Regions from separate parts of the Homo sapiens genome. Here all the other regions are linked to region 2. Evidence: fine-mapped expression QTL. A gene starts in region 2. Each other region holds a variant in brackets. All regions are shown on one strand. Distances are between the middles of the regions. Region 1 overlaps EFCAB14 (EF-hand calcium binding domain 14). Region 2 holds the start of ATPAF1 (ATP synthase mitochondrial F1 complex assembly factor 1). Region 3 holds the start of MOB3C (MOB kinase activator 3C).

What was found.
Region 1: its variant is fine-mapped to the expression of ATPAF1 in esophagus mucosa (GTEx, PIP 0.95).
Region 3: its variant is fine-mapped to the expression of ATPAF1 in whole blood (TOPMed, PIP above 0.99).

What each region holds. Positions count from the first base shown.
Region 1 is chr1:46,691,555-46,699,857 of GRCh38, reverse strand. EFCAB14 (EF-hand calcium binding domain 14) reads left to right here. Exons shown (of 11, transcript NM_014774.3): 4 at 3,209-3,307; 5 at 7,921-8,031. EFCAB14-AS1 (EFCAB14 antisense RNA 1) reads right to left here. Exons shown (of 3, transcript NR_038828.1): 3 at 7,760-7,984. Among named protein-coding and RNA genes, the nearest start is that of EFCAB14-AS1, 22 kb to the right of the region's middle. The variant AG/G (reference allele first, on the strand shown) is at 4,492.
Region 2 is chr1:46,664,580-46,672,882 of GRCh38, reverse strand. ATPAF1 (ATP synthase mitochondrial F1 complex assembly factor 1) reads left to right here and starts at 4,519. Exons shown (of 9, transcript NM_001394565.1): 1 at 4,519-4,826; 2 at 7,519-7,627. The coding sequence starts at 4,561. TEX38 (testis expressed 38) reads right to left here and starts at 1,029. Exons shown (of 2, transcript NM_001145474.4): 1 at 912-1,029; 2 at 1-10. The coding sequence starts at 948. It also overlaps the pseudogene NENFP1. RefSeq lists enhancers at 4,070-4,219, 6,015-6,543, 6,544-7,073 and silencers at 4,732-4,902, 4,330-4,949.
Region 3 is chr1:46,610,297-46,618,599 of GRCh38, reverse strand. It overlaps MOB3C (MOB kinase activator 3C), which reads left to right and starts at 1,789. Exons shown (of 4, transcript NM_201403.3): 1 at 1,789-1,889; 2 at 5,229-5,696. The coding sequence starts at 5,279. RefSeq lists a silencer at 1,615-1,894 and enhancers at 2,295-2,364, 4,716-5,339. The variant C/T (reference allele first, on the strand shown) is at 3,593.

The DNA of each region.
Region 1 (8,303 bases), 27 kb before region 2:
TTTCTAAAGTTGCCAGTTGTCACTTCCACTTTATTCTCTTCTGTAGAAGCAAGTTACTTATGTCAGGCTACACTCTAGGGAAGGGGAAGTAGGTTTCACCTCTTGAAGGGAAGAAGACTATCAAAGAATTTGTAGACATATTTTGAAACCATCACGTATCCTTATAAGATAGTTGTTAAATAGTTGTTGTTGTTATTATTATTATACCCAGTTACTGATGAAAAGAATAAATTCACTACTTATCTAGCCTTATCTCCTACCCCCCGGCCTCTGTCTTCTACTCTGCTTAGACTAGCCTTCTCAATGTCCATCCCAGACACAGAGTGTTAATTCTCAGCCATTCATTCAACAAATGCCAGTCTTTGTATCACGGGTATTGTGGAAAGTAAAAGAGACATGGTCCTTGATCATGTGGAGCTTATAGTCTTGTGGAAGAGAGAAACCTCAATCAAATAACCACCTAAACAAATCATTGTCACTTTGAGAAGTGCTATGAAAAGAAAGTACTCCTGAGCCTGTTCATACTGTGTTCCCTATCCCCCGATGCCACCCTCACCCTTCTAACCTAGAAAGAATGCCTGCTTGGTTTTTATGTATAAAATTCTAACTTCTCTGTCAGAGTCCAATTTGAGTCCTCCTTCAGCGAAGCCTGTTTCTTTCAGCTTGCATTGATATCCTTTTCTCAGAACTTTATTCAGTATCACGTTTAATGCTTAATTGTTTCTTTAATGTACTCTTGCCTTGTCTCTCAGTTATATTGAAAGCTCCTTGAGGTGAGAGACCTAAGAGTTTCCCTTAATTCTTCTATCTTCCCCACTGTTAACACCCAGTCCCAGCAAATCGTATCATCTCTACTTCTGCTACTACCTCTACTACCACTCAAGTCTAAACCACCATTATCTCTTGCCGAGACTACACAGATCTCCTTCTTACTGGTCTCTCCATTTCTACTGACAGCCATAGTAGTCTTCCTCCAAGGTGTCTCCATTCATGTAATTATCCTGCTTACACACCCCTGCCTATCACACCTCAAGTAAAACCCATGTGCTTGTTCTGGTTTACAGAGTCCTGTCTGTTCTGGCACTTTACTGCACAACTGGCCTCACCACCTACTTTGTCTCTCTGTCTCTCTCACATACACACACACATTATGAGATCCTGCCACCTAAACTTCTGTTCTCTGAATATGCCAAGCTCTTTCCTGTACTGGGACTTTTGGTCTAGCAGTTCCCTCTTCCCTGAAATAGGCTTCATCCAATCTTCATATGATTAATTCTTTCTTACTATTCAGATCTCAGTTTAAATTTTATCTCCTTACAGAGGCCTCCTCAGACCGATCAGTCTAAAAGTTGCTACCCAGTCACTCCTGTCAAGTTACTTTATTTTAATTTTTTTCTAGTGCTTCCCACTATCTGATATTTTTCTATATAAAAGTGTCTGTCTGCTTGCACTAAAATGTAAACACCACAGGATCCCTGACATCTGTGTTGTTCACCAGTGGTGAATAATAGGGTCCAGTAGTATTTGTTTTATTAGTGAGTGGCTGAAAATTCATCTTAAGCCTCTGAACTTTTGCCTTCTAAAAGAAAAGAGGGAAAAGAGAACTTGAGTTCCCGAGTTCCCAGGCTCCTTACCAGACTCCCTGTCTCAGACCAAGCTACTACTACTTACTCAGGGAGCTTTGTTTAAATTAAATTCTTTGCATAGCCGGACATGGTGGCTCATGCCTGTAATCCCAGCACTTTGGGAGACCAAGGCAGGTGGATCACTTAAGGCCAGGAGTTCAAGACCAGCCTGGCCAACATGGCGAAACCCCTATCTTTACTAAAAATGCAAAAATTTGCCAGGTGTAGGGGCATGCACCTGTAATCCCGGCTACTCAGGAGGCTGAGGCACGAGAATCACTTGAACCCAGGAGGCAGAGGCTGCGGTGAGCCAAGATCACTGCACTGTACTCCAGCCTGGGCAACAGAGCAAGACTGTCTCAAAAAAAAAAAAAAAAAGAGAGAGAGAGAAAGGAAAAAATTCTTAGCACAGTACTTATTACAATCTGATTTCTTTTCTTTGTTTTTCTGTCACCTTTTACTAGGATGTATGCTCCATGAGAGCAGAGCTTCATGGTCTTGTTTGCCTCTCTGCTGTCTCCACAATGACTGCAGCAGTGTCTGGCACAGAGATGCCAAACATTTGCTAAAGGAATGAGTAGGGAATCAGGTTCTGTTTTGTCTTACACCCCCCAGTGCCTACCACTGTGCTTGGCCCATAACAAGTGCCCAGAAACTGGTGGGTACTCTGAGGCCACTCTGAATATAATTGCTATTGGTAGATCTGTGTTCTCATCCTAGAATTTAGAATGGGAAAGCGGTTTAGAACTAAGAGTCTTTCAAGTGTTTCGAGCCAAACTGCAAAGCTTTTAGAATATTGTCTCTGCAGCCTGAAACTGACTATTACACAGGTTCCCCCAGTTCCCATTCAAGAGCGAAGTCTAGATGTTTAGAATTCTATGCCTAAATAGCAGAACGGAAGCCTCATTTTATTTTGATTAAATTCCTATTTTAATACATACATTGCATCAGTCAGTGAGTCAGTGAGTATTTATTGAGCCCCTTCAGGATACAAAGTAGTGCTCTGGTAGAGCTATTGAGTTTGAAATATTAGTCACATTTTTAAACCAAAACCAAATCCCCAAGTAGTTGAAAGTGCTGTTCAAATTGTCAGAGTGCAGTTCCTGTAGACTGTATTTTGTGAGATGGGCTTTTACTTTATATGTTCCCACTTGGGCAGGAACAAAAGTTTGGTAAATTACTGAGGTATTACATTTTACCAAAATGAAATTTTGAAGTGATCCTTCATCATTAGCTTTCTTCCTGTCCAATTGTTGAGGGAGTGTGTGATAATTACAGCATCTTTTGAGTAATTTAAGATTTTGGGATCTTGTGCTGCCAGGACAGGGTAAAGAATAACACTTGCCTTCACTCTTTGACACTAGTGTTCAAATTGGGCAGGGAAAGAAGGGGTATTATTGTTGCCTCCCAGATCCCAACTCTATCCAAAGTACTGTCTCCTTTACTTCTGTGAGCTGACAGGGTTGCAGAAACACATAAAATCCTAGACTATCTTGACATCACCAACCGTAGAGTTTGTGAAGGTAACGTGTCCTCTACAAATTCTCATTTGTTTTCATTGTTTGTTACTCTTTTTTGTTCAGATTTCTCTGTTGACTTCTGCAGTGAACCACCTCAAAGCCAATGTTAAGTCAGCTGCAGACTTGATTAGCCTGCCTACCACTGTAGAGGGACTTCAGAAGGTAGGTGCCATGTGTGGGTACAGAGACTTCAGAAGGTAGGTGCCATGTGTGGGTACTATTTGCCATAATTCTAGCTTCTTATAAGTTTTCATTGAAAGCCTAGCATTTGAAATCAGCTGCTCCAAGAGGGCAGTAATGGAGTGTATCACTGTGTCCTAAAGAATTCAGAACAATTTTGTTTTGGTCTGGTTAGTTAGGCCTTTAATTTGCAACAGGTTACCTCAGCTGTGATTTATATGGGTTCATACCTTTTTATTTGGCTCTCTGAGTCCCAGAATTGCTCTGCTGGCACTCTTGTGTTAGCATATATGGGTTCGCTTTTCAGCTTGCTTTTTCAGTTCACCACTCACAATATCTTCATCAAAGCAGACCAATTGTACATGATAGTTACCCTAAATCTCTGTTACTTTCCATAATTAAGAAAGTTAAAAAAAAAAAAAAAAGATGACCTGGGGAAATGCAAAAATTAAAAATTCAGGAAACAAGTGTTGGCAAGGATATGTGGAACGAAGGAAATTTTCAAACACTCCTGCTCCTGCTAGGAGTATTAATTGGTAAAAATCACTTTGGAGGCTGGGCATGGTAGCTCATGACTGTAATCCCAACGTTTTGGGAGGCTGAGCCAGGAGGATCACTTGAACCCAGGAATTACAGACCAGCCTGGGCAACATAGGGAGACCTCGTCTTTACAAAAAATTTTAAAGTTAGCTGGGCATGGTGGCACACAACTGTAGTCCCAGCTACATGGGAGGCTGAAGTAGGAAGATCACTTGAGCCTGGGAGGTTGAGGCTACAGTGAGCTGTGACCAACCAGATGAATAGTACTCAGGGATCCTTAGAGATGGACGGGAAGAGTGGATAGGGGTAGGAAGGCAGAAGAGGTGCCTAATTCGAACATAAAGAACATCATCCCCTGACACAGGAAATGGAAGAAGGGATTCCCCAAACGGTGGATATCAAATCTAGGATCTTTGAATTATAAAAATATGTGCTAAGTTTGGTCAGATTATGTGCCAGGGTCTATGAGCATATGAATTCTTTCCACAAAGGAGCAAGAAATTTCTAAGCCATAAGCGAAGACAAAATTTGCTATTTTATAGCCACACCATCTGTGTGTGCTCAGTCTCCATAATTTGCTACTTGTCCAATGTGGCCATCTACTTACAAATTCGGGGGGAAAAAAA[AG/G]GGGTAGGGACAACTCTGATGAGGCCAGATTCTTGCCGTTGTTCCTAGGGCCAATTCAGGAAATGATAGGCTTCTGTAGCCATTAGTACAGAAGCAGCTCTCACAGTCTTGCATTAGAAAAGGAAACTGGTTTATTCTTTTTTTTATTACACTTTAAGTTCTAGGGTACATGTGCACAACGTGCAGGTTTGTTACGTATGTATATATGTGCCATGTTGGTGTGCTGCACCCATTAACTCATCATTTACATTAGGTATATCTCCTAATGCTATCCCTCCCCCCACCCCAAAACAGGCCCCGGTGTGTGATGTTCCCCTTCCTGTGTCCAAGTGTTCTCATTGTTCAATTCCCACCTATGAGTGAGAACATGCAGTGTTTGGTTTTTTGTCCTTGCAATAGTTTGCTGAGAATGATGGTTTCCAGCTTCATCCATGTCCCTACAAAGAACATGAACTCATCATTTTTTATGGCTGCATAGTATTCCATGGTGTATATCTGCCATGTTTTCTTAATCTAGTCTATCACTGATGGACATTTGGGTTGGTTCCAAGTCTTTGCTATTGTGAATAGTGCCGCAATAAACATAAGTGTGCGTGTGTCTTTATAGCAACATGATTTATAATCCTTTGGGTATATACCCAGTAACGGGATGGCTGGGTCAAATGGTATTTCTAGTTCTAGATCCTTGAGGAATCTCCACACTGTCTTCCACAATGGTTGAACTAGTTTACAGTCCCACCAACAGTGTAAAAGTGTTCCTATTTCTCCACATCCTCTCCAGCACCTGTTGTTTCCTGATTTTTAATGATCACCATTCTAACTGGTGTGAGATGGTATCTCATTGTGGTTTTGATTTGCATTTCTGTGATGGCCAGTGATGATGAGCATTTTTTCATGTGTCTGTTGGCTGCATAAATGTCTTCTTTTGAGAAGTGTCTGTTCGTATCCTTCACCCACTTTTTGATGGGGTTGTTTGATTTTTTCTTGTAAATTTGTTTAAGTTCTTTGTAGATTCTGGATATTAGCCGTTTGTCAGATGAGGAGATTGCAAAAATTTTCTTCCATTCTGTAGGTTGCCTGTTCACTCTGATGGTAGTTTCTTTTGCTGTGCAGAAGCTCTTTAGTTTAGTTAGATCCCATTTGTCAATTTTGGCTTTTGTTGCCATTGCTTTTGGTGTTTTAGACATGAAGTCCTTGCCCATGCCTATGTCCTGAATGGTATTGCCTAGGTTTTCTTCTAGGGTTTTTATGGTTTTAGGTCTAACATTTAAGTATTTAATCCATCTTGAATTAATTTTTGTATAAGGTGTAAGGAAGGGATCCAGTTTCAGCTTTCTACATATGGCTAGCCAGTTTTCCCAGCACCATTTATTAAATAGGGAATCCTTTCCCATTTTTTGTTTTTGTCAGGTTTGTCAAAGATCAGATGGTTGTAGATGTGTGGTATTATTTCTGAGGGCTCTGTTCTGTTCCATTGGTCTATATCTCTGTTTTGGTACCAGAAAAGGAAACTGGTTTATTCTTGAATTTATTCATTCAATAAACATTTGTGGAACTTCCTCCAGTATGTACCAGGCACTTTGCTGTTGATGGGAATACTAGTTTCAGAGTTTTGCTCCAGAGTTCACATGGCTCTGTCAGTTGCTTCCTTAGGGGAAAAAAGAAAAGAAAAAAAAAATCCTTAAACAAGAGCTTACTATCTTCTGGCATCCCAATGGGTTCATACATCCAGCCAGTGAGGATTGGATTCACAAACAGTAGGTGTCTTTGAATGCCTGTAGCTTTTGCAACAGGCATTCAGAGCTTACATAGATAGCAACAGAGCTTACATAGATAGCAAACCAGCTTAGATACTTTTACCCAGTGTGTTGTCTCTTTGCAAATCTGTGTGTTTATCATGCCAGGCACTGTGTTTCTTTCAAGTGGCTCAGTTTTGAAGTGGTAGGTCATGCCAAATACCTAACTTTATTGTATCTCATGTAATTTTTATTAGTGTCATCTCGTGTTCTCTTGGATTCTTGGATATCAGTGTAATAAAAATGACCTTGGTTAAAAATACTAATGTGGCACTGTAAAACTGTCAGCATGTCTTGAAAAGGCCAAAACTCACTGAATAGTAACACCCTTTTAGATGTTCCCTTAGGACAGGCTTTTTTTAAAACATGGCTTCTGAATTATATCTCCAAGTTCCCTGTCCACTTGGGCTTTTTAGGGCTAATGAAAGCAAAGTAAGCCACTACTCATATCCCTATTCAGTGGTTGCTGACAGGATTCTACTTTTTTTTCATCTCTGCAGTATTGAGTTTCCCAAAGCCAGATATGGTTCCCTCCCACTTTTGCTCGAAGTGTCCTTTGCTCCTAACAAGTGGCAGTCTACTGTGTTAGCTCGGCCATCTGCCTTCCCACAGCAGGGATTGACAGAGGCAGTTTGTGAGAGAACCTTATCCCTGGGTTCCAGATTTATAAACTAATATTTTTTCTTTAGGGAAGATTTGGTTTTCCTCTAGGAAAAATCATTTAAATTAAGAAAATTACTTGTTTGATTGATAGAGAAAGAGTCCTGTTAATTATCTCAGTATACACTACATGTAATCATAGTTTGAAGATATTTGAAATAATCAGAAACACCGATTTTCATTAGGGCAGTGTTTCATTAGGGCAATGTAAATTAAAATCACAATATACACTTCCATTAGAATGGCTGAAGTTGAAAAGAATGACTGTACCAATATTGGTACAGGATTGGTGAGGATATGGAGTAACAGGAACTCTCATTCCCTGCTGGTGGGAATGTAAAATGGCATAACCATTTTAGAACATTGTTGGGCAGTTTTTTAACAAGTGAAGCATAGACCTGCCATATGATCAGCCATTCACCTGCTAGGTATTATGGCGATTAGAAAGCATATGATAAAGGGGAATGTCTATAAGTCCACATGAAGACCTGAACACGAATGTTTATAGCAGCTTCATTTGTAATAGTCAAATATTGAACACAGCCTAAATGTCCATGAGCAGGGGGAGAGATAAACTGTGATAGAGCCACACAATGGAATGCTGCTCGGCAGCCTGCCAAGTAGCCTCAACATGGATGAATCCCAATTCTGCTGAGTAGAAGCAGCCACACTTTAAAAAGCACTACTTGCTCACTGGTTCTACTTATATAAAATCTAGAAAATGAAGACTGATTTATTGTGACAGAAAGTGGATCAGTGGTTGCCTGGGAACGATCGGCAAGGGAGTGATTACAGAGAGTCATGAGGAAACTTTCAGAGGTGATGAGTGTTTATTATCTTGATTGTAGTACTGGTTTCACAATTGTTTATGTGTCAAAACATTCAAATTATACATTTTTGAATATGTACAGTTTATTGCATGTCAGTTGTCTCTTAAAGCTTTTTTACACCTTCCTATATGTTTCCATTCAGAGTGTAGCTTCCATTGGCAATACTTTAAACAGCGTCCATCTTGCTGTGGAAGCACTACAGAAAACTGTGGATGAACACAAGAAAACGATGGAATTACTGCAGAGTGATATGGTAAGGAGACCCAGCAAGTCAGCATGCTCCTGCTCACCCTTTTTTGTGTAAGAGTCATGTTGCCAACTTTCCACTAATCTGAAAAGGCCCTGCTATGCATCTGTTCAAAAGATCTAATAAGCAGTATACATTGATTGTTCTACAATTTGTTAATAAAGCAATTATGGTAGATAAAATTAAAAGCCAAATCTTTTGCAAACATAGTACTGGAGGAGGTAAGGTAATAAGACACAGTTCCTGAGGATGGAATGGGTAGGACAGAAAATGGAAAA
Region 2 (8,303 bases):
GAGACCCACACTAAGGCAGCAAGAAAGAAAAAGAGGCATGCTGGCTGATAGCTGTAGCTTGGGGCCTGAGCTGTTTCTCATTCCTCTTTCACTTAACCCATGCATCAATCGCTCCATCCACTTAACTACTCTCACCGTTCCTTCCCTCCCTTATTGACTTGCCTCATCATTCCCTTATTCAGTCAAAGCTAGATTTCCAGGGAGCTTAAGCACCACCTTTAACTCTTTACAGATCACAAAAGCTAGGTCTAGCGGGGGCATGTGCTGCCCAGGCTCAGTCAAGCCTCTGATTCCTAACCCAGGACCCATCCAATCCATCAGACTGAGAAGTTTCACTATGGGCAAGTCCATCAAGAAGCAAAAGTTCACCAGCACTTTGTGAGGCCCAGGTGGGCAGATCACTTGAGGTCAGGACTTCAAGTCCAGCCTGGCCAACATGGTGAAACCCCGTCTCTACTAAAAATTTTAAAATTAGCCAGGTGTGGTGGTGCATGCCTGCAGTCCCAGCTACTTCAGAGGCTGAGGCAGGAGAATCACTTGAATCCAGGAGGTGGAGGTTACAGTGAGCCTAGATTGAGCCACTGCACTCCAGCCGGGGCAACAGAGCAAAACTTCATCTCAAAAAAAAAAAAAAAAGTGAAAGTTCATCAGTTGACAGAGACACCAATGTCCCATCCCATTCCATTCAGCTGTGATAGTCCTGGGCTATTGATAGTATCTTCTCTGGTTGATCAGAGCATGGTCTTTGCCTTAAAATAATTCTTAGTTTTCTAGAGTAGACTATCTCCTAACTGCTTAGCTCTCCTCCAGGCAGCCAGGCACTGTCCCATCCATGCAAAGGGCCTTCCCTGAGTGTTTGTCCCCAAGCCCTAAGGCACAAGTCCAGTGACAGGGACTGGAGGAGCACTTACTCCCAGGGAAGCGCAGGTCCTCCTGTTGGGAATCCATACAGCTGAGCTTTGGTACCTGGCCGATGGCTCTGGGGAGAGGGAACTCACCCACCCATCTGCCCAGCCAGTCAGCCCATCTGCCCAGCCAATCAGAGTCTCCAGAATGCCCAGGCCCTTTGTTCTCTAAAGGAGAGGTCACTGGGTTCTGAGAATTGGGCATTCTAGGGGCAGTGCTTGTGAAGTGGTCCTGGGTTAATGGAAGGAGGGGACTTCATCCAGTGGCATTTTTTGGGTGGAATGTCACTACTACTTCCATCAGAGACTGGTTCACCTATTGAATTGTCTGTACCTACCCCTTATGGTGAACCCACAGAGCAGACCCCAGAAAAGGGCCATTGTCCCTCAGGTACTTACGGATGTTGCTGGTCTTTAGGGAACGGTTGATGGGATACCTGTCCCCAGTGAGGAATGTAACAAGGAACACACAGCATTGGGCAGCCCTGTTCTCAAAAAGTATCTAACCAAGTTGGCAGGAAGAAACCTGCTCAAGGGAACCAAGTGGTCAATACCTCCTTCTTTGGCTCCAACAATCTGTCTTTTATTTAATTACCTTCCTTCAAGTGCTGACAAGTGTTTCCCAGGCCCCAGGCCCTGTGGGGCTTCCCACCATCTGGCCTGCATCTACTTCCAGCCTTACTTCCCTCCTCGTCCTCCACACACTTTTCCCTTTTGCCTAGTCCGTACTCCTGAACAGACCCTGCTCATTCACATCTCTGGAGGTGTGCCCATGCTGCTCCTTCACCCAGGAGTGCCCCTGCCCACTTTTCCACCACTGAACACCTGCTCATCCTTCAAGACTCAGCTCAGCCCCCCTACTCTGTGACAGACTGCCCAGAATCATATCATCGCCAATTTGAAGAAACTTTGAGAGTTGTCTAGTTCATCTCCACCATCTGATCCCACCATCAGGGCCATGCTTGACTCCTGGGGGTAGATTTTTCCCCACACAGCAACTAATCTCCCTGGACTCAAGACTCACTTGAGTCAGGAACTTGCTCACCACCTCCTGAGGCAGCTTGATGCATTTATGGGCAGCTCAGTTAGAAAGCCCTTCCCTAATTAAGCTTAAGTCAGCCTTCCCAGTATGTTGCACCACTGCTTGTAGCTCAGCTTCTTAGCACCATTTTAATGACTCCCCTCTTTATAGTCCTCCAATGTGTGACTTAGGGAACTATTTAGCACAGAATTCTCTCCAGGGTCCACTTACCCTTGTTCTCCTCGTATATCACTGGCCCCTACTTTCCAGTCTCCTTTGCTGGTTTCTCCCTTTTCCCCTGATCTCTAAATGTAGGCATGTCTAGGGCTCAGTTCTTAGTGCTCTATCTACATTCATTCCATCAGTTATCTCACCCAGACCCCTGGCTTTAAATATCACTATACACTGACAGTACGCAACTGTATCTCTCCAGCCTGGAATGCTCCTCAGAACTTTAGACTCATACCCAAATACCTGGTTGACATCCCTCCTTGCCAGTCTGTTAAATTATCCCAAACCAACATGTCCAAAACCAAACTCTGATTATCCATCCTCCAAAGTCTACCCTACCTACAGCCTTCCTCCTCTTCATAAGTAGTATCTCTGTCCTTCGGGTTGTTCAGGCCAAAAACCTGCAAGTCATCCTTGACTCCTTTCATTCTATCACACCCACACTGACTCCATCAGCAAGATCTTTAGGCTTTTATTTCAAAATATAACCAAAATCTGGCCACTTTTTTTTATCACTATCACTTTAGTCCAAGTACCACCATCTCTCACTTGGATTACTGTTCCCTGTAGGGTGACCAACATCCTGGTTTGCCCAGGACTTGGGGTGGGTTCTCAGGACATGGGGCTTTCAATGCTAGAGCCAAGAAAGTCCTAGGCAAACTGGAATAAATTAGTCACCCTTGGGAGAGTTTCCATCCTTGCCTCCACATATCCTAAATCCCACCAGCAGCCAGCATGATCCTTTTAAAAAGTAGATCATGTTACTCCACTGCTTAAAACATATAGTAACTTCCGATCTCATTCGATTTAAAATCAAAGTCCTTAACCAAGGCCTAAGCAATCTAACTAGCCCTCCCTATACCTTCTTGGTCTCATTTCTGCTGCTGTGCCCTCACTCATTCAGACTCAATAACCTCCTCATCAGGGCCTTTGCACTTGCTGTTTCCCCTACCTGGAAGGCTCTTCCCCCAGCATTCCCACATTACCTTCAGGTCTCTGCTCAAGTGTCCCCTTATCTCTATCTCTCTTGGCCTGCTGTTTTTCTGCATACCATGTAGCATCACCTAACATTATATATTTACTGTCTGTTTCACTCCACTAGAATGTAAGCTCAATGAATTAATATAAACAAGGATCTAAGAACTTCAGATAATGATAACTGCTATAAAGAGAATGCAATAGAGTGATGGGATAAAGACTATAAAGAGATGGAGGGGTTGTCATTTAGGTCCCTTGGAGGTGCTTACATGTGAACTGAGCCCTTAGATGATGAGGAGGCAGCCACATGCAGATCCACAGAGAAAACAGCAAGTGTTAGGAGTGTGAGCCAGGTATGGGCTGGCATACTTGAAGGACTTATTCATCTTCCATTACACTGTTCCTCGCACAGGGCAGGGCTCAGGGCTGATCTCCATGAGCATAGGTTGGATTGAGCAGAGTTGAAGGCTCTGCCCCTGTCCCAGGAGGGGCTTCAATCAGACAAAACCCAGACAAGAAGGACCTGATGATGAGTACTGTCCCAGAGAGCCCACTCCAGGACTGGCCCTGTTCTGTGAGCAGGTGGGACACAGAGATGTTAATGTCACTGTCCCTGACCCTAGGAGCTCACACCTGGTTCAGACGGTAAGGAAGATTGTGGCATTTGGGTTGAGAGAATGGAAGGAGAGAGGATTCCAGGGGTCAAAAAGGGCCTGAATAAGGACTCTTCAAGGAGTAATCCTGGTGTTTCTTTGGGAGAGAATAGGTCACTGTGGCTGGAGTTCAAGGAGGATGTCAGGAAGCAGAGGAAAAGGAGGCTTGGGAGGCAGCTGCCATCTTGAAAAGAGCTCAGCTGTCGGGTAGAACTTGAACAAGTCACATAATTACTCTCGGCCTCAGTTTCCTTATTTGTTAGATGAGGATAATACTGCCACACAGAGTATGAAGCCGCTCAGTGTCCTGCACATAGCAACCTCAGTAAAGAGAAGCTTGCTGCTGTGATTATAGTTGATGAAAAGACCTTCGATGCTGAAGGACGGACTACTACATCGAGTGCCTGGCACTACAGCGAGTGCCAGGGGCAAGCACCGCGAGGACATGGAGATCCGCTGGCTTTAGAGAACGGACTTGGCGCGCAGAGGCTGCTGGTCCCAGAGGGAGGAAGGGCGTTGAATTTGGGCAGCCTCCCTGGAGGAGGCGGGCCGTGGCATACACAGGGCGGCGAGAGCGCGCAGTGCCGGGGCCAGAGCGGCGCGCCCCCTCCTCCCCGCCCCGCCTCGCCGCTATCCCGCGCCCGGAACCTTGGGCGCGCGGAACCTCGGTGCCGGAGCGCGGGCGCGGCGCACTCGGAGCGGGATGGAGCGGGCGCGCGGGCCGCGGGCCGAGGCCGACGCGCCTGAGGAGGAGGAGGAGGCGGGGGCGGCCATGGCTGCTGTGGTGGTGGCGGCTGCGGGTGGCGCGGGACCGGCGGTCCTGCAGGTGGCCGGTCTCTACCGGGGCCTGTGCGCGGTGCGCAGCCGCGCCCTGGGCCTGGGGCTCGTGTCACCCGCGCAGCTGCGCGTCTTCCCAGTGCGCCCCGGCTCGGGCCGGCCCGAGGGGGGCGCCGACAGCAGCGGGGTCGGGGCCGAGGCCGAGCTCCAGGCCAACCCTTTCTACGACCGCTACCGCGACAAGATCCAGCTGCTGCGCAGGTGCGGGCCTGGGTTGGCTGGAGGCGGGCAGGAGGCGGGAGGAGGGGCGGCCCGGGCTGCTGGGCCTTAGGACAGCCCTGTGAGGTGGGCACTAGTACTGTCCCAGCTCTTCAGATGATGTAGCCAGGCTCCGCGAGGCTAGGTCACTTGCCCAAGATCACACAGCTAATTGGTGTCAGAGCTGGGAGTCTCTGCAAAGCCCTGGCTCGTTCCACGTTTGTCTGCTTTGGTTCTCCAAACGCTAAGGTGGACTCTTATGACAGCCCTGAGGCAGGCAGCTCAGAGACACCTGTCCTCATTATAGAAATGGGAAAACGCCTTCTAGAGAAGGGACTTGACTTGCTCAAGGTCACATATTAAGATAGCTGAGGCCTGGCTCAGAGCTGGAGTTCCCAGGCTGGTGGTAGCTTAGGGCCTTGACTGCAAGGAAAGGCGACTGGGGATGGGAGGAGGGCATCAAAGACTAATAGTGTCACAGTCGGATCACCCATTGAACCCTCTTAAGGAGACTGAGGATCAGCGAGAGTAAGAGACTTGCCAAAGGTCACACAGCTGTTTGGGATTTGTCTGACTCTGAGTCCAGGGTCCCTAACACCACCTCTTAGCTTCCAGAGGGAAGGATCTGGAGCTTAGAGGGGCTTAAGGTGCATATGAGGGGCTATAGGAGCATCTGAAGAGTTCAAGTGGGAAGAGCTAAAGGAGATCAGAGGTGAAAATTAAAGGGGCTTGGGAGAGAATTTAGCAGGGTAAGAAGGTAGTTGTCTTATGAAAGGAAACCAAAGACTTAGTACTGTAAATTTGAGTTCTGTCTCATCTCTACTTCCACTGCCTTAATCTACTCCATCATCGTCACCTGGGCTGTTGCCATTATCCTCTAACTAGAGTTCCCTACTTCCATTCCTGGACTACTTTACCCCAGTTCCTCTCACTGCTACTGTAGTGATCTTTCTTGCCATTTGAAACAGTTATGCAGTAAATGAATGAGTATTTTTGCTCTCCTTCCAGCAGCATTGAGATAGTCTCAAGTATTTGTCATCTTAAAAGCCTTTCTTTGATGTACATTCCCCTCCAGGCTTCTCTCGTTGATCTGTATTTGATCTGTTTTACACACAAGCATCTCTGAAGAGTTGTCTACTTGTACTTTGAATACTTTATCAGCATCCATTTATTCTTACCCACTCATGAACAAATAAATAACTGGTTTTACCGTCCTTCCCCACTGGATCATTCCCATCAACATTTACACATACTGTTATCCCCCCACTGACCTCTAAATAACATCCAAACTCCTTAATGTTTCACACAAGTTCCTCATACCCTAGTCCCTGCCAGTCTCTCTCTAGTTTTATCTGTTAGCAAACTTCCTTTGAAAAAGAATGGAGAGGAGGGGATGTTCCAGGTAAGGGGAGCAGCAACATAAACAAAGGTACAGAGGCATGAAACCACCTTAACCATTTGGGGATGTTTGAGCAAATTTTCATCATAATACCTGTTGTACTTTCATTTGTTTACTTTTATGCCTGTCTCTCCCACTGGATAGTGAGCTCCTTGAGGTAGGGAGTCTGACTTATTTATTTCTATATCCTCAGATCCCAGCAACAGCTTCACTGCCCAGGCTGTCCCTTGCCCTCTCTACCCCTTCACTATGGCAGGCCCAGTTGCAGCTGTAGCCACTAGCAGGGTTGACCCTGGTCCTGGTACAGCCCCCAGGGCTGCTTGCAGCTCTGGCCAGGCAGGTGCCATGCCCGACTAAGCAGAAACCCCTGGTGAGGCTCTTTATTGAGGAGGAGCCGGCCCACTACAGAGAGAAGAAAAACATCCCATCTACATGACAGTGAAGGGAGTGGTGTTTTATGTCACCTCCAGAAAGGAATTTTATGGAAGAAGGGGCCCCCTATAATGCATTGACCAGGAAAGTCCACCAGAGGGATAGCCAAGATGTCCCTGGGTCCTCCAGACCTCACCCATGAAACTCTGGGTCTCATGGCCAAAGAGCTGGAATCCCTGGATGATATCTTCACCAAAGTGTACAAAACCAAATATCCCATGGTTAGCTACACAGTCTGAAGAATTCTTAATAGGGACAGCACCCCAGCCTGGACTTCAAACCTGAAGACCAACCCCATTTTGACATAAACAATGTGTTCTGTTGTTTCATCTCCAAGAGCAGCTTCTTTGGAGGGTAGGTTAGGGAGATACTCAGATGCTAAATCTTCTGCAAAATAGGCTACCTAAAGCCTCTGAATCACCAGGATCTGAATAAAGCAGATGTTTAACCTGGTTGGGGGGACATATTTTCAAGAACTGGATGTATTCAAGTAAAAGCTTGACACCTAGTAAGGAGGCTATAGGATTCTTGTCTGAAGAGGTGATCCAGCAAGATGACCTCAAAATTCTAAGTACCCTGAATGTAAGTACCTGAGAGACTAAGCCCTGTGTAAACCTAGGGAACAGCCTGCAAAAGAAAAATGTTACACAGGCCCCTTGAGGATTAACAACAGTTGAATAACAGGATTTCTTTTTCCAGTTTCTTTATTTCTAGGCCTGTGCCCAGTTCTTACTAACTGAAGGCAAATTTTTCAACCTCTCTGAATGGCAGTGTCCTTTCTCTGTAGAGGTGGAAAGTGATGCTTTGTTATTTTAGAATTCAAAAAGGCCCAGTTGGTTTACCCTTTGGTTTACCTCTGATCAGGTCAGACCCAGCTGCTTTTGAGTCCCGCCTGGAGAAACGCAGTGAATTTCGGAAGCAGCCAGTGGGGCATTCCAGGCAAGGTGATTTTATCAAATGTGTGGAACAGAAGGTAAGACCTTCCCCCATTTGTGGTGTTTGCTTACCAGCACTCCTTCACCCTCCTTACCCTCACCCTTATCCTTAAAGTTGGTTTATTGATGGGTCAGCTGGGTGAACTGAACATAGTCTCTCCCAACTCCATTTCCATCCATAAATGTTTATCCTGCTCTTTCTAGGCAAAGTACTGTGGTCATGGTGGAGATATAGAAGTATGAGAGGGGTACTTCCTGCTCCCAAGAGGAGCAGTCTGGTGGTCAAGGCAAGGCACACATGGTAGTAGGCTAGAGGTATCAGAGAAAATTTCCCATGGGAGATGGAACCTGACCTAGGCTAGGAACGTTGTGGGGGATTTAAATTAAGTAGAGAGGAAGGAATGGGACTTTGATGTAGAGCAGGGGTCATCAAATTTTTTCTGTAAAGAACTAGATGTTAAATATTTTAGGCATTGTGGGCCGTATGGTCTTCTTTGTGACTACTCAGCTCTGCCATCATAGTGCAAAAGCAGGCCTAGACCGTACGTAAATGAATAGGTATGGTTCTGTCCCAGTAAAACTTAATCTACAAAAATATTTGGCAGACTAGATTTAGTTTCCTGACAACCAGCCAACCCTGCCAACCCACCCCCATCCATTCCCATGTTGAGGAATTAGCTTAAACAGAGGAAGAGCTTTGAAAGTAAAAGGGGT
Region 3 (8,303 bases), 54 kb after region 2:
TGGGTGTTCCATGTGCTTCCTGCAAATACCCCGACTCTTACAAAGTCCGTCAGTCCACAACCACATTCTCACTTCTGGGTGACTGAGCTGTGACCTTGTGTATCTCTGTGTGTTGTCCCCTTTACTGACCTGTCAGCACCTGAGGTCGGCAACCAGGTCAGCTTTATCACCCAGTCCCCTGATCTGATATGAGTGGAGAGTTATACTCAATAAAAGATATTGATTAGGATATCAAATAAATAAAGAAGCATAGTTTAATTTGCTCCATAAGCAAGTGTTTGTTTATAGGGGATTCAGGGCAGAGAGTTAAGAGTCAGACATAAAAATACAGAGAACTTTAGACTGGGGCAAAAATTGGTGCTCAACAAAAGAACATACCCACAGTTCTATGAGCTGGGATTCTTTCTTTACTTTTATTTTAGGTTCAAGGGTACATGTGTAGGTTTGTTATATAAGTAAACTCTGTGTCATGGGGATTTGGTGTACAGATAATTTCATCACCGAGGTAAGCAGCATAGTACCTGATGGGTATTTTTGTCTCATCCTCCCTCCTCCCGCCCTCCACTCCCAAGCAGGCCCCAGTGTCTGCTGTTCCCCTCCTAGTATCTATGTATTCTCATTGTTTAGCTCCTACTTGTAAGTGAGAATATGCAGTATTTGGTTTTCTATTCCTGTGTTAGTCTGCTTAGGATAATGGCCTCCAGCTCCAGCCCATGTTGCTGCAAAGGATATGATCTGGGTTAAGGATCTAGCGTGTTCTCATGTCATCCAGCAACAGAAGGTCCAGACACAAGGGAGGTCCAGTGTGCCATGGTAAATGCCCACCTCTGGCCTCCAGCTCTCCCCTACCCGCATCTACTCACCTCCCACCCCTCCAGAGTGGCTTCTATGGCTAAGCTCTCTGCTTTGGGCTTCCTACCCTAGAAAGCCTCCAATCTTCCCTCCCATCCCAGACAGAGCAGCCAACTGGTCCCTGGGCCTGGGGGCCACGGTGTGCATTGAATGCTGGTGGGATATCTGTCTGTCCTCGAAGGAACCCAGGTGGTAGGGAGAGCAGATCAGATCTTGAGTGGTTTGGATTTGTCAGAAGGAAGGAGGGAGAGAAGGTATTCTAAAATGGAACAGCTGGGATAAGGGTCTGGAGATAAGAAATGGGGTGACTCTGGGTAAGGAGCAAGGAGAATCAGCCCAACCTGAGCCAGGCCCCCTCCCTGGTGAGGAGATGAAGTTTGTGATTTGAGCGCTCTTCTGGGGCTTGTCCCTCAGGGGTGAAGGACTCAGCTCATGATTCCCAAGGCGTTCATTTATTCCTTCACTCACCCATTCATTCATTCATCAAGTGGGTTTTGAGTTCCTGCTATGTGCCAGGAGCTGAGGATATGGGAGTGGATAGGACGGTCCCGATCCCTTATTGGGTCCCGGGACAAGTGTGACGCAGACGATTCTAGGAGGGCAAAGAAACCACCCTTATCTAGCAGCTCTTGTTTCTGCTCCAGAAGAAGCCGAGCGTTTTCCCATTTTACTGTCTGGGAACTTGAGGCTGCCTCCTTGGTGGAGGTCCAAGGAAGCACCGAGAGGGCGGGCAGCTCAGTTAGTCCTTTGTCCAAGGGGAAGCTGGGAGCCCCATATGGACTTTCCGGGAAGGTGGGGGCGAGTGCGTCTGTGTACTGGAGTGGAGGGGAGTCCCCTTTCTCCGCCCCTCCCCGCCCCGTGGCCGCGGCGTGGCGGGGCCGGGGCGGAGCTGGCGTCGCCCGGGGCAGGAGGGCAGCCGCGGCCGGCAGGACAGGCAGACGGACAGGCTGACAGGAGAGAGAACAGGCACTGCGGGACCTGCAGGAGAAAGGCGATCCTGTGGCTGGGAATGTGACCCCACGGCCAGAAGAGGACCCGTGAGTGTGCGCCGTGCCCCTGCGGCCTCGCCGCGCACCCCGCCCGCCTGGCTTCCACTTTCATTTCTTCGGCCGTCCTGGCGTGGCACAGTCCGGAGGAGAGTCCCGCCCGAAGGCAGGCTGGCCGCTGTCCTGAGGCTGGCGTCCGAGGCTCAGAGCTTCGAAAGTTGCGGGGGGGATTGTCGGGGTGGGGGAGTACGGGGCAGAGGGGAGGGGTTGGGGGGCGTGTTTTCGGGGAGCGGAAATGTCAGGCGGGCTCCTCTGGGTCCTACGACCTTCCTGGCCCTGGGAGCTGGTTTGAGGTTGCAGGGAAGCCGGGGGTGGGCGTGGGTGGCTGCGCGCCGCGAGGAGAGCGTGGAGTCTTCGCCTCTACTTTTTCTCTTCGACCTCTGTCCTAGAGAGAGTCCCAGGATGGATTCTGGGTTCAAACTGGGGCCATCCTCTGGCCCAGATCCTGGGCCAGGCCCAAGGAGTGGTAGATGTAGCCTAGCAGGGGGCTAAATATCAGAAACAGGTAGGGTCAGCCTGCTGTCTTCATTTGAGAAGCCCAGATCCGCACCCAGGGAACGAGCAAGGCACTGCCACTCCAGGAGTGAAAGGATAGCCATCACTGGGAAATGGGGGCTAGGACGGGGAACGGCAGTGGTTCAGGGAGAGACAGAGGTTCTGTGACAGATAGAAACTCAGTGAGGGCATGGGGGTGGGGAGTGAAGGGAGTTAACCCTGTGGCTAGAAGAGCACCTGCCCTGCACCCACCCCCTGAGCTTACATTTTCCTGGAAAGAGACCCAGGCCTTGAAGTTCCACAGGAGTAAGGTGGAACTCTAGCTCACTGGTCAGGACACCCCAGTTGCTGTGCGGAGTCAGTGTGTTGGGGACAGGAAGCAGGTTGGGCTGTTTGGTGGAGAAGATGCTTCCACTGTCCCTCCACTCCCCTCCTCTTCTCTGTCTCCACCAGACCATTGATGAGCCAGTGCAGGAAAATGGTCTTTTACTCTTGGTCATGAGCTGAGCCCCACCTTATCCCAGTTCCCAGTTCTGCTTGTAACTTGCTATGTGGACACAGGCTCCTCAAGTCCTCTTTTTAGGCCTCAGTTTCCTCATCTGGGCCTCAGTTTCCCCATCTGTACAAGTGAGTTGGGCCAGCTGATCTATCAGGGCTATTTTAACTCTAAGATTCTAGTCTAAGCTTTCCTTAAAGCCTGAACACTGACTTTGTGCCAGGCCTTGTCCTAAGCTGGGGGTGGGTTGGGGATGGAGTGGAGACTGCAATGACCAAAAGCAGCCTCTACCCAAGGAGAAGGAGATCTGAGTTCAGGAGAGGAGGCTGTGGGAGGAGGTAGCAGCCAATCTGAGGATGTGTGGTCAGGCAGGTGGAGGGATAAGAAAACATGCAGAGGCAAAAGAGTGGGGGCGTGTTCAGGAATCAGGAAGAAGCCCAGGGTGGTTGGTGTGGGGAGGTGGGAAGTGGGGCAGGAAAGGTAGGACAAGGTGCTGAATGCCAGGGTGGGGGCCTATTTCTAACTGTCATAAAGGGGGCCATGCAATGTGGGGAGCCCAGGAGCCCCGCCTAATTGCAGTGTGAGGGATTTTGGAAGCACTTGCCCCAAGCAGAGTTTAAAATGGAGATGGCAAATGAAGCGCAGAAATCTCTTTGCTCTGGAAACTGGGGTCCCACCCTGGGGACTTCTTTGGGTGAGAAGT[C/T]GAAGAGTCGGGATGGATGAGATGACCTTTCACATCTGTGAGTTTTTTTCAAGAGAACAAGTTCCTGCTGAATGGCCTGTTTCTACTCTCCAAGCTGCTCTCATTTTACCAGACTGCCCCCATCCTGGCCTGCCTTTGTGGGTTCAAGGAAGGACCTTTGTCTCAAACAGCTCCCCAGCTAGTTTGACTTCTTGCCAGAAGTAATACCCCTCCCCGAAATATGTGCCATCCCTTTGCTTTTACCCAGGTGTCACCTGGTTCCCACCCTCCCTTCCCCAATCCTGTCCCAGGGTTACCAGAGATGTGAGAAAGGACAGTGCTCCAGCGTCAGAGGTCAAGCCCAGGCTTTGGCCATAAGCAAGCCTCAGGGTAGGGCTAAAGGCTAGAGTCAGGGCTCACACTTGCCAGAGCCCAGGTCAGAGGTCAGCCAGGAACCAGAATGCAATTCTTAGCTTATACTCAGCCTTAGTGCTCAGTCTAGGGGCAGGGGCAGTGTGCTTAGTGGGTGGCTAAATTCTAGTTTTGGTAGGTACATGGGTCTGCATTTCCCAGTAGCTCACACACTCACAGTTGAGATGAGATGACTCAGGTCTTAGAAACCTAGCTATAGCAGAGTGACCCAGGACCTGGATGGGCTAAATCCATGGTGATACAGGGGTCACCCAGTAAGCCAGTGGTAGAGCTGGGACTAGAACCCAGGACTCCTGCCTCTGAGCCTAGGGCCCTGATCACTGTCTCCCAAAATTTGTTCTGAATCTGGGATCCTTAAATTCTAGGAGGCAAAGTAAATTTGCCTGAGCTCTAGATGGGCCCTCCTGGGTGCATCTGACTATACTCTTCTACCTCCCAGTGCCAGGCACATAGTAGTTGCTAGAGGAATGTCTACTGAGTGTCAGGTGCAACGGGAGGAGCCAGTGGCTTGTTCAGATTTGGGGCTGGAGGAGGCTGGCTTGAGGGGAAGGATCTCCAGCTGTTGTCAGAGGAAGCGACGCCCTCATTGGCCTGCCGCCCTCCCCCTCCTCCAGTGCTTGCAGCCACACTCAGAAGCCGCCCAGCTGGCAGCGGGAGGGCCCTTTCCTCTTTCAGGGTGAAAAAAAAGGAAAGGACATTTTTGGTAGAAAAGTTCCCTGCTGCTCCCTGGGAATCCCCGGTGGCCGGATGGACTACGGGATATCCCAGAGGAAGCCGAAAGCCACCCCCGACCCCCCTCCACCCTGCCCCCAGCACAATGCTGCGAGGCTCTCCCACGTTGCACCAGCTGGCCAAGGGGGCTCCCAGAGGTCATCTCGTCCAAGCCCCTGTCTGCTGGTGGGCCTGCAGGGAGCCTCTGCGACCTCTCTCGTGACCAACAGCAAGTCTGAGGGGCACCTGTTTAGAGCCCAGGCCCAGCTCTGCAATGAAAGCAGAAAAGAGACAAAGCAAGATGGGAGGACTGTGGGGGCTTAGCAAGGGGGACTAACATAGCCTGGAAAGAGGGCGGGGCACTGGACCTAGGGGCTGAGGACTTAGATTCCAGGCAGAGGATGCAGAGGTTGAGCAAAGGCTGAGAGGTGACAGGGAAATGATGAATTGGGAAGTCAGAGCCCAGATGATAAGGCCTTGACCGCCAGCTCCCCTATGCCCTTGTCCCTGGCAGGGTATCCTCAGGTCCGAGCCCCTGGACAGCAGCCCCAGGCCCAGCTGGCCATGGCCCTGTGCCTGAAGCAGGTGTTCGCCAAGGACAAGACGTTCCGGCCGCGGAAGCGCTTTGAGCCGGGCACACAGCGCTTTGAGCTGTACAAGAAGGCACAGGCCTCTCTCAAGTCGGGCCTGGACCTGCGCAGTGTGGTGAGGCTACCACCCGGGGAGAACATCGACGACTGGATCGCCGTGCACGTGGTGGACTTCTTCAACCGCATCAACCTCATCTACGGCACTATGGCGGAGCGCTGCAGTGAGACCAGCTGCCCGGTCATGGCCGGCGGGCCCCGCTACGAGTACCGCTGGCAGGACGAGCGCCAGTACCGGCGGCCCGCCAAGCTCTCTGCGCCGCGCTATATGGCATTGCTCATGGACTGGATCGAAGGCCTCATCAACGACGAAGAGGTCTTTCCCACGCGTGTTGGTGAGTGTCACCTGGCGGGGAGGGAGCCACTGGGAGCCCATTCCACAGATGAGGATTTAGTTTGATATAGACACTCTGCAGGGTTGGGGGTTGATTTTCATCCCCATTTTGTGGAAGAGGAAAGCGAGGTTGAAACAGGTTAAGTGCCTTGCTCAAGGTCAAGCATTTGCTAGGACTTCCTGACTCCCAATTTGGGGCTTTTCTTTCTTTTCTTTTTCTTTCTTTCTTTCTTTTTTTTTTTTTTTCTTTTCTGAGACAGAGTTTCGGTCTTTCACCCAGTGGTGAGATCTCAGCTTACTGCAACCTCTGCCCCCCGGGTTCAAGCGATTCTCCTGCCTCAGCCTTCTGAGTAGCTGGGATTATAGGCACCCACCACCACGCCTGGCTAATTTTTGTATTTTTAGTAGAGACAGGGTTTCACCACATTGGCCAGGCTGATCTCGAACACCTGACCTCAGGTGATCCACCCACCTCAGAGGGCTTTTCTTTTCTAAAGCATAAGTGGTCCCACCAAGGACCACTCTGGCAAGACCACAGATGCTGTGATTCTCAGAACCTTCCAGAACAGTTGCCCCGAGGTGTTCATAGCTGATTTGACCTCCAGCCTCCCGGGGTTCCCTCTGACTCCTGGCCTCAGGAAAAGGAGGGAGTTGGTGGTTGGGTGGGCCCTGGTGGTATCATCACCTCAGATTGGGGCTCTGAGGACAGAATTTTCCCTTGCCAGGCACAGGCTGTGGGGCCTTTTCTTATCTCAGCTGGGCAGCCTGGGCGGGTGAGGGTAGGGAGGGGAGATGAGTGATGTCACCCAGGCACTGCTTACCCACCCGAGGGCAGCAGGAGGGGGTTGTTGGTCCAGGAGCTGAGCAGGCATGACACTGTGTTCATCACACCAGCCGCACCTGTAGCTGGGCCCAGCCCCCACCTGGCCTGGAGCTCATCTCTGCAGAGGCTGTGTGGATCAGCGGTGGGTGGGGCAGGGTGGTCAAGCCCTGAGGGGAGAAGTCTGAATGCTGAAGGAAGCTGGGCACTGAGTCACAATTCAATGCCCACGGCTCCTCCCCAGCCAGTGGCCTGCTGTTTCTTGCACTGTCATGCCCGACAAGGAGCACCTTCATTTTACATAGGAGGAAACTTGAGGCTACTGAGGGAAAGTGCACTGAACTGGGAGGAATTCCGAACTGGGGCTCAGATCTGTGGGAGCCCAGGACCCCAAGTCTACATGGGCAGGATATGTCTGAGGAATCTGGGCTGGGCTGGAGGGGCTCAGAGGGAGGGAAGGCTCGACCCCACCTGGGAATGGTGAGGAAGAGGAGGGGGTCTACAGAGCCGGGTGGGCCAGCTGTGGACCTGAATGTAGATTCATAGTCCCTGCTGGCCATACCTCCCTGGGCCTGTGGGACTCCAGGTATCGATGCCTAAAACCCTGGGTGACTGCCACACAGAGAAGAGGGCATAAGCCACCAAGATCTCTGCCTTGAGCATGGGGGACTATGCAGAAGCGGGGCCTTTTTCATGGGTCCCAATATCTGTGAGGGTCGCTGCAGTGCACTGCAAAGAGGGTCTGAATCCAGTCTCCATTCTGCACTGATTAATACTTATGTGGCCTTGGGCTAGCAGCTTCACCTTTATAAGCACTTCTGTTTTATCATATCTAAAGTGACAATCAGACACATCAGGCGAATTGTTCTAAGGATTAGAGGCAAAAGGTGTGAAGGGCCCAGCACAAGGCCTTGCTCATAAATGGAAGGTTCTTCGTGTTGTTGAATATTTGAAGGAATGAGGGCTGTCTGAACTAACTCTTGCAGAATTCATAATTTCCAGGATTGGGGGTCTGAGGACTTCTGTGTGAATGTTGAAAAGAGGAGGGACATGGGGTGGGGCTAGAGAGGGAGGTCAGGATAAGATCATGAAAGGCCTTGAGCAGCGTCCTGCTGGAAAGTTAGGACTTAATCCTGAAGGCCCAGGGATTTTTTAAATGGACCCAGTTGTTGAACTCTCCTTGGAGTTGTATACAAGAGTGTGATGTGAGCATCTCTGCAATTGCACATATTTCTGGGGAGAGTTTAGGTCGTAACTTTTATCATAGTCTAAAAAGGGTTGGTCAGTGACCCCCACAAGTTTGCAAAGCCCTGCTTTAGGTAATGGGAAAATGTGGAAGATGATGTATATTCCAGCAGGGGAGAGCCACAGTCAGATTTGTGCTTCATTAGAAAGAAAAGTATGGCCAGGCACAGTGGCTCATGCCTGTAATCCCAGCATTTAGGAGGACGAGGCAGGTGGATCACCTGAGGTCAGGAGTTCAAGACCAGCCTGACCAACATGGAGAAACCCTGTCTCTACTAAAAATACAAAATTAGCTGGGCATGATGGCACATGTCTGTAATCCCAGCTACTTGGGAGGCTGAGGCAGGAGAATACCTTGAACCTGGGAGGTGGAGGTTGCAGTGAGCCGAGATCATGCCATTGCACTTGCCTGGGCAAGAGTGAAACTCCGTCTCAAAAAGGAAAGAAAAAAAGAAAGGAAGAAAGAAAGAAAAGTATGGGAGAAAGTCAAACCACTCTCTGTTTTCCAAAGGGAAGTGTACTAAAAAGTGTGCTGGGGAAAAA